Linked DNA regions of Homo sapiens. The protein of the gene in region 2 interacts with the protein of the main gene of each other region in a biochemical or structural test. Each region holds a gene or a part of one and is shown on either strand. Other genes may lie near its edges.

Evidence for each region.
Region 1: the proteins of SAMHD1 (region 2) and IKBKB form a complex in vitro, tested with the Homo sapiens proteins (one study listed by BioGRID).

The regions. Positions count from the first base shown.
Region 1 is NC_000008.11:42,274,224-42,278,040, forward strand, and holds part of IKBKB (inhibitor of nuclear factor kappa-B kinase subunit beta), read left to right. Parts: intron 1-3,817.
Region 2 is NC_000020.11:36,913,655-36,917,471, forward strand, and holds part of SAMHD1 (deoxynucleoside triphosphate triphosphohydrolase SAMHD1), read right to left. Parts: intron 3,396-3,817; coding exon 3,295-3,395; intron 3,177-3,294; coding exon 3,068-3,176; intron 1-3,067.

The DNA.
Region 1 (3,817 bases), on a different chromosome or scaffold from region 2:
TTCACCATGTAGGCCATGCCGGTCTCAAACTCCTGACCTCAGGTGATCTGCCCACCTCAGCCACCCAAAGTGCTTGGATTACAAGCGTGAGCCACTACGTCCGGCCTGAAATATACAATAAAGTTTTATTCACTGTAGTCACCCTGTTGTTCTTTAGAATACTGTAACTTATTCCACCTAACCGTAATTTTGTACCCATTAACCAGTCTCTCCCTATTTCCCTCCACAACTCCCCCCACCCCCACCACCCTTTCCTGCCTCTGGTGACCACTATTCTACTTTCTACTTCTGCGAGATTAGTTTGTTGTTGTTGTTGTTGTTGTTTTGAGACGGAGTTTTGCTCTTGTCGCCCAGGCTGGAGTGCAGTGGCGCGATCTTGGCTCACTGCAACCTCTGCCTCCCAGGTTCAAGTGATTCTCCTGCCCCAGCCTCCCGAGTTGCTGAGATTACAGGTGCCTGCCACCACACCTGGCTAATTTTTGTATTTTTAATAGAGACGGGGTTTCACCATGTTGGCCAGGCTGGTCTCGAACTCCTGAACTTAGGTGATCCCCGCCGGCGCGCCCCCCCCCCCCCCCGCCATCCCAGCCTCCCAAAGTGCTGGGATTACAGGTGGGAACTACCGAGCCTGGACGAGATCAGTTTTTTTTTGTTTGTTTGTTTTGTTTTTTGAGATGGATTCTTGCTCTGTTGCCCAAGCTGGAGTGCAGTGGCACAATCTTGGCTCGCTGCAACTGGTGTCTCCCAGGTTCAAGCGATTCTCCAGCCTCAGCCTCCCAAGTAGCTGGGATTATAGCCGTGCACCACCACGCCTGGCTAATTTTTGTATTTTTAGTAGAGACAGGGTTTTACCATGTTGGCCAGTCTGGTCTCAAACTCCTGACTTCAGGCGATCTGCCTGCCTCGGCCTCCCAAAGTACTGGGATTACAGGCATGAGCCACTGTGCCTGGCATTTTTTTTTTTTTAATTTTTAATTTCTTTGGAGATAGGGTCTCAATCTGTCATCCAGGCTGAGTGCAGTGGTGCCATCATGGCTCACTGTAGCCTTGACCTCCTGGGCTCAAATGATCCTTCTGCCTCGGCCTCCTGAGTAGCTGGGACTACAGGTGTGCGTTGCCATGCCCGGCTAATTTTTGATTTTTTGTAGATAGGAGGTCTGTCTGTTGCCCAGGCTGGTCTCGAATTCCTGGACACAAGTGATCCTCCCACCTCAGCCTCTCAAAGTGCTGGGATTACAGGTGTCAGCCAACAGACTTTACCCAACTGAGATCAGTTTTTTATTAGCTCCCACGGATGAGTGAGAACATGTGGTATTTATCTCCCTGGGCCTGGCTTAATTCCCTTAATGTAATGCCCTCCAAGCTCATCCATGTTGCCACAGATGGCAGGATTTCATTCTTTTTTATGGCTGAATAAGAGTACATTGTGTCTGTGTACCACATTTTCTTTGTTCATTTGTTCATTGATGGACATTTAGGTTGATTACATATTTTGGCTATTGTGAATAGTGCTGCAGTAAACGTGAGGGTGCCCATATCTCTTTGATAAACTGATTTCCTTTCCTTTGGATAGATACCCAGTAGTGGGATTGCTGGATCATATGGTAGTTCTATTTATAGTTTTTCTTTTTTTTTTGAGACGGAGTCTTGCTCTGTCAACCAGGCTGGAGTGCAGTGGCATGATCTCAGCTCACTGCAACCTCCGCCTCCCGGGATCAAGCAGTTCTCCTGCTTCAGCCTCCAAGTAGCTGGGATTACAGGTACATGCCACCATACCCGGCTAATTTTTATGTTTTCAGCAGAGACGGGGTTTTACCATGTTGGTCAGGATGGTCTCGAATTCCTGACCTCAGGTGATCCGCCTGCCTCAGCCTCCCAACCTGCTGAAATTACAGGTGTGAGCCACTGCGCTAGCCTTGTTTGTAGTTTCTCAAGGAACCTCCATACTATTTTCCATAATGGCTGTGCTAATTTACATTCCCACCAATAGTGTATAGAGTTCCGCTTTCTCCACATCCTTGCCTTCATTTGTTACTTTTTGTCTTTCTGATAATAGCCATTTTAACTGTGGTGAGATGATATCTCATTGTGGTTTTGATTTGCATTTGTCTGATGATTAGTGATATTGAACATTTTATCATATACTTGTTGGCCATCTGTATGTCTGAGAAATTCCTGTTCAAATCATTTGCCCATTTGAAAAATTGGATTATTTATTTTTTTGCTGTTGAATTGTTTGAGTTCCTTGCATATTCTTGATATTAATCCCTTGTTGGATGGATAGTTTGCAAATAATTTCTCCCATTCCATAAGTTGTCTCCATAGGTTCCATAGGTTTATTCTGTTTTTTCTTTTGCTGTGCAGAAGCTTTTTAGTTTGATGTAATCTCATTTGTCTACTTTTGCCTCTGTTAACTGTACTTTTGAGGTCTTATCCATAAAATCTTTTCCCAGACCAATGCCCTGAAGCACTTCCCGTATGTTTTCTTGTTTTTTTTTTTTTGAGACAGTCTCACTCTCAGCTGAGACAGGTGCGATCTCGGGTCACTGCAGCCTCTATCTCCTGGGTTCAAGCGATTCTCCTGCCTCAGCCTCCTGAGTAGCTGGGATTACAGGCAGCGCCATCACACCCGGCTAATTTTTTTTTTTTTTTTTTTTTTTTGAGACGGGGTCTCGCTCTGTCGCCCAAGCTGGAGTGCAGTGGTGTGATCTCGGGTCACTGCAAGCTCCGCCTCCCGGGTTCATGCCATTCTCCTGCCTCAGCCTCCCAAGTAGCTGGGACTGCTGGCGCCTGCCACCACCCCCGACTAATTTTTTTTTTGTATTTTTAGTAGAGATGGGGTTTCACTGTGTTAGCCAGGACGGTCTCAATCTCCTGACCTTGTGATCCGCCTGCTCGGCCTCCCAAAGTGCTGGGATTACAGGCGTGAGCCACCGCACCCGGCCACGTGTGGCTAATTTTTTTTTTTTTTTTTTTTGCAACGGAGTCACGCTCTGTTGCCCAGGCTGGAGTGCAGTGGCTTGATCTCGGCTCACTGCAACCTCTGCCTCCTGTGTTCAAGCGATTCTCCTGTCTCAGCTTCCCAAGTAGCTGGGATTACAGGCACCTGCCACCATGCCTGGCTAGTTTTTATATTTTTAGTAGACACGGGGTTTCACCATGCTGGCCAGGCTGTTCTCAAGCTCTTGACCTCAAGTGATCTGCCCACCTTGGCCTCCCAAAGTGTTGGGATTACAGGCATGAGTCACTAACAGGCGCCTGGCCTGTTATTTATTTTTAAAAAGCCAAAAGCCAGCTTCCTCCTCCTGCCGGCTGAACCCCACACAGTCTGTCTGCACCTGCCTCTCCATCATTCCTCCCCTTGGCTGCCTCTGTTTTGAGCGCTGAGCCCTCTTGCCGGACAGGCCTCCCCCTCCTCCACATTCCTCCAGGACCAACTCTAGGCCATCTCCTCCTCATATGCGTCTGGGATGGCTTTGTTCTGTGGCAACTGGTTCTCCCGGTGAGTTCCTCTGGGCTGGTTCCTGTGCCGCCCTTCCTGTCTGCGTGTGGAGTAAGTCTTGTCAGGACCCTGCATTCCTGGTCAGCCAGGGCTGGGTCTGGCCTTTGGAGTTCCTTCAGTTCTCCTGTAGCAAGTGCCTGACGTTGTATATGTGCTAGGTGCCCCAAATCATCCACTCTGCCAGTCCACAAATATTTATCGAATGTCTATTATGTGTACATTGGTAATTAAAGCAGACCTTTGGAGAAGGGAAGGAGCCATTAGTCAACTAATTATAAATGTAAGCTCCTAAGTATGGTAAAGTGTGAGTTGGGA
Region 2 (3,817 bases):
AGTTTCCGTTTTAGGCATCTTAAATTAAATATATATATATTTTAATCCTCCCAATAACTCTAGGAAATAGGTATTACTATTCTTATGTTCTTCATTCTTGACTTTTTTTTTTTTTTTTAGACAGTCTCGCTCTGTCACCCAGGTTGGAATGCAGTGGCACACAATCTTGGCTCACTGCAACCTCCACCTCCCAGGTTCAACCGATTCTCGTACCTCATCCTCCTGAGTAGCTGGGATTACAGGTGTATGCTACCACGCCTGGCTAATTTTTGTATTTTCAGTAGAGACAGGGTTTCACTATGTTGGCCAGGATGGTCTCAAACTCGGTAGCCCAAGAGATTTGCCCACCTCAGCCTTGCGAAGTAGTGGGATTACAGATATGTACCACCACGCCTAGCCCTTCTTGACTTTCTATAGTATAGTACTATACTACTTTTTGATTACATGACTGCCATCTAACAGGGACCTAGTGATTTCAGCTGTTTAACTACAGTTGACCTTTAACAACACATGTTTGAACTGTGAGAGTTCACTTATACAGATTTCCTTGCCCCGCTGCCACCCCTGAGACAGTAAGACCAATCCCTCCTGTTCCTGAGCCTACTTAATGTGAAGACGATGAGGATGAAGACCTTTATGATGATCTACTTCCACTTAATGAATAGTAAATATACTTTCTCTGCCTTATGAATTTCTTTCTTTCTTTTTTTTTTTGAGGTGGAGCCTTGCTCTGCCGCCCAGGCTGGAGTGCAGTGGCGCAATCTCGGCTTACCACAGCCTCCGCCTCCCGGGTTCAAGTTATTTTTCTGCCTCAGCCTCCCAAGTAGCTGGGATTACAGGCACTCGCCACTGCGCCCAGCTAATTTTTGTATTTTGAGTAGAGACGGAGTTTCACCATGTTGCCCAGGTTGGCCAGGCTGGTCTCGAACTTCTAACCTCAGGTGATCTGCCCACCTTGGCCTCCCAAAGTGCTGGGAATACAGGTGTGAGCCACCACGCCTGGCCTTGCCTTATGATTTTCTTAATAACATTTTCTTTTCTCTAGCTTACTTTATTGTAAGAATACAGTAGATGGGGCGTGGCGGCTCACACATGTAATACCAGCACTTTGGGAGGCCAAGGAGGACAAGTTGCTTGAGGTCAGAAGTTCGAGACCAGCCTGGGGAACATAGCGAAACCCTGTCTCTACAAAAAAAAAAATAGAAAAATTAGCCCGGTATAGTGGCATGCGCCTGTGGTCCCAGCTATTCGGGAAGCTGAAGTGGGAGATTTGCTTGAGCTGGGAAGGTGGAGGTTGCAGTGATCTGAGATCGCACCACTACACTCCAATCTGGGTGACAGAGTAAGATCCTGTATCCAAAAAGAAAAAAAAGAATATGGTATATGATACACGTAACATTCAAAATAGGCTGGATGCAGTGGCTCACACCTATAATCATAGCACTTTAGGAGACTGAGGTGGATGGGTTGCTTGAGCCCAGGAGTTTGAGACCAGCCTGGGCAACACAGTGAAACTCCACCTCTGTAAAATAAATTTCAGAATTAGCCAAGCATAGGCCTGTAGTCCCAGCTACTCGGGAGGCAGAGGAGGAAGGATCAGTTGAGCCCAGGAAGTCAAGGCTACAATGCACTATGATAGTGCCACTGTACTCCAGCCTGAGTAACACAGCAAGACCCTGTCTGGAAAGAAAACAAAAAACATACAAAATGTGTGTAACTGACCATTAAGGTTATCAATAAGGCTTCTGGTCAACAGAAGGCTATTTAGTTAAGTTTTTGGGAAGTCAAAAGTTATATGCAGGCCAGGTACAGTGGCTTACACCTATAATGCCAGCACTTTGGGAGGCTGAAGCGGGTGGATCACTTGAGGTGAGGAGTTCGAGACCAGCCTGGCCAACATGGTGAAACCCTGTTTCCACTAAAAAGACAAAAATTAGCTGGGCGTGGTAGCATGCATCTGTAAACCTAGCTAGTCACAAGGCTGAGGCAGAAAAATCACTTGAAGCCAGGAGGCAGAGCTTGCAGTGAGCCGAGATCATGCCACTGTACCCCAGCCTAGGCAACAGTGGGAGACTCCATCTCCAAAAAAAAAAAAAGGTAAAGAAAAGTTTTATACAGATTTTCAACTAGGAGAGGGGACAGCACCCCTAAACACCATTTTGTTCAGGTGTCAACTGTATAAAATTTTTCAACACTAATACAGTGATTAAAAATGAGACTCTGGGCCAGGCACCTTGGCTCATGCCTGTAATCCCAGCACTTTGGGAGGCCGAGGCGGGCAGATCACGAGGTCAAGAGATTGAGACCATCCTGGCTAACACGGTGAAACCCTGTCTCTACTAAAAATACAAAAAAAATTAGCCGGGCATAGTGGCGAGTGCCTGTAGTCCCAGCTACTAGGGAGGCTGAGGCAGGAGAATGGCGTGAACCCGGGAGGCGGAGCTTGCAGTGAGCCGAGATCGTGCCACTGCACTCCAGCCTGGGTGACTGAGCGAGACTCCGTCTCAAAAAAAAAAAGAGAGAGACTCTGGAACCAAACTTTTTGGGTTGAAATTCCAACTCTACCACTTGTTAATTATATGCCTTCTCTGTGCCTTAATTTGCTTGCCTGTTGAATGGAATAATAGTATCTATCTCACAGGGTTATACGGAATGAGTTGATCCGTCCAAAGCACTTAAAATGATGCCTCATACAAGCCAGGCATGATAGTGTGCACCTGTAGTCCCAGCTACTTGGGAGGCTGAGGAGGGAGGATCACTTGAGCTCAGGAGTTCAAGACTAGCCTGGGCAACACAGTGAGATCCTATTTCAAAAAAAAAAAATGCAACCAACCAAACAAAAAAACCCCAAAACCAGTGTCTAACTCAAAACTTAATAAATGTCCATGTTAATTTTATTATTATTTAATAATGCAGTAGAAGGGAAGAGACTAAAGATATTTACAAATCCTAGGAATTAAGTAAAGAGACTGACGATTTACCAATTATTCCAAATTGTTAAATGGTTATTTCCAAATTTCAGACCAGGAACAACATTCTTCTTATTGCCTCCTCTGGCACAGCTTACCTTATCTCTAGCACAAATACGCAACTCATTGTCTACTTCACAGACACGGGCAAACTTAATAAAGCGCTTGTAATCAAAATTATTTTGGATTCCAAGATGATGGCAGTCCCTAGAAGGATTCCAAAACAGAGAGATGAAATTTTTCAACAAGGAAGCTGTACCTTAAATAGTAATACTAAATTTATATAAATATTTTAGCCAACTTTTCAGAAGTGTTCAGTGCATACCTGGCAAAATAATCCCATTTGTCCACATCAATGCCATTTCTTTTATTAGATACTATCTCATAAAGGAAGCTTTTGTTTTCAGGACGCCCTTTATATGGCCACTGGAAGGCAAGAAAACCCACTGGAAGTTTTAGGATAGGCACCAAATCTATTTATAAACAAAGCAAAGCAATTTTATTAATCTGTAAAATATAAACAGATACCTGACTGGGAATATGAGATAAACTAGAAGGTTCTATTCTTTCTTTCTTCCACTTCATTTCAAAACTAGTAGAAAGGGAAAAGAAATGCTAAGGTATATGATACCCTATTGTTACCACATTTTCTTGTGCCACTGAAAAGATCTGAACTCTATTACATTTCCCAAAACCAACAACTTTTGTGTTTTCTTGGTTTATAAGTTTTTGAAAAATATAAAATCTAGGCCAGGCATGGTGGCTCACGCCTGTAATCTCATCACTTTGGGAGGCCGAGGAGGGCGGATCACGAGGTCTGGAGTTTGAAACCAGCTTGGCCAAGATGG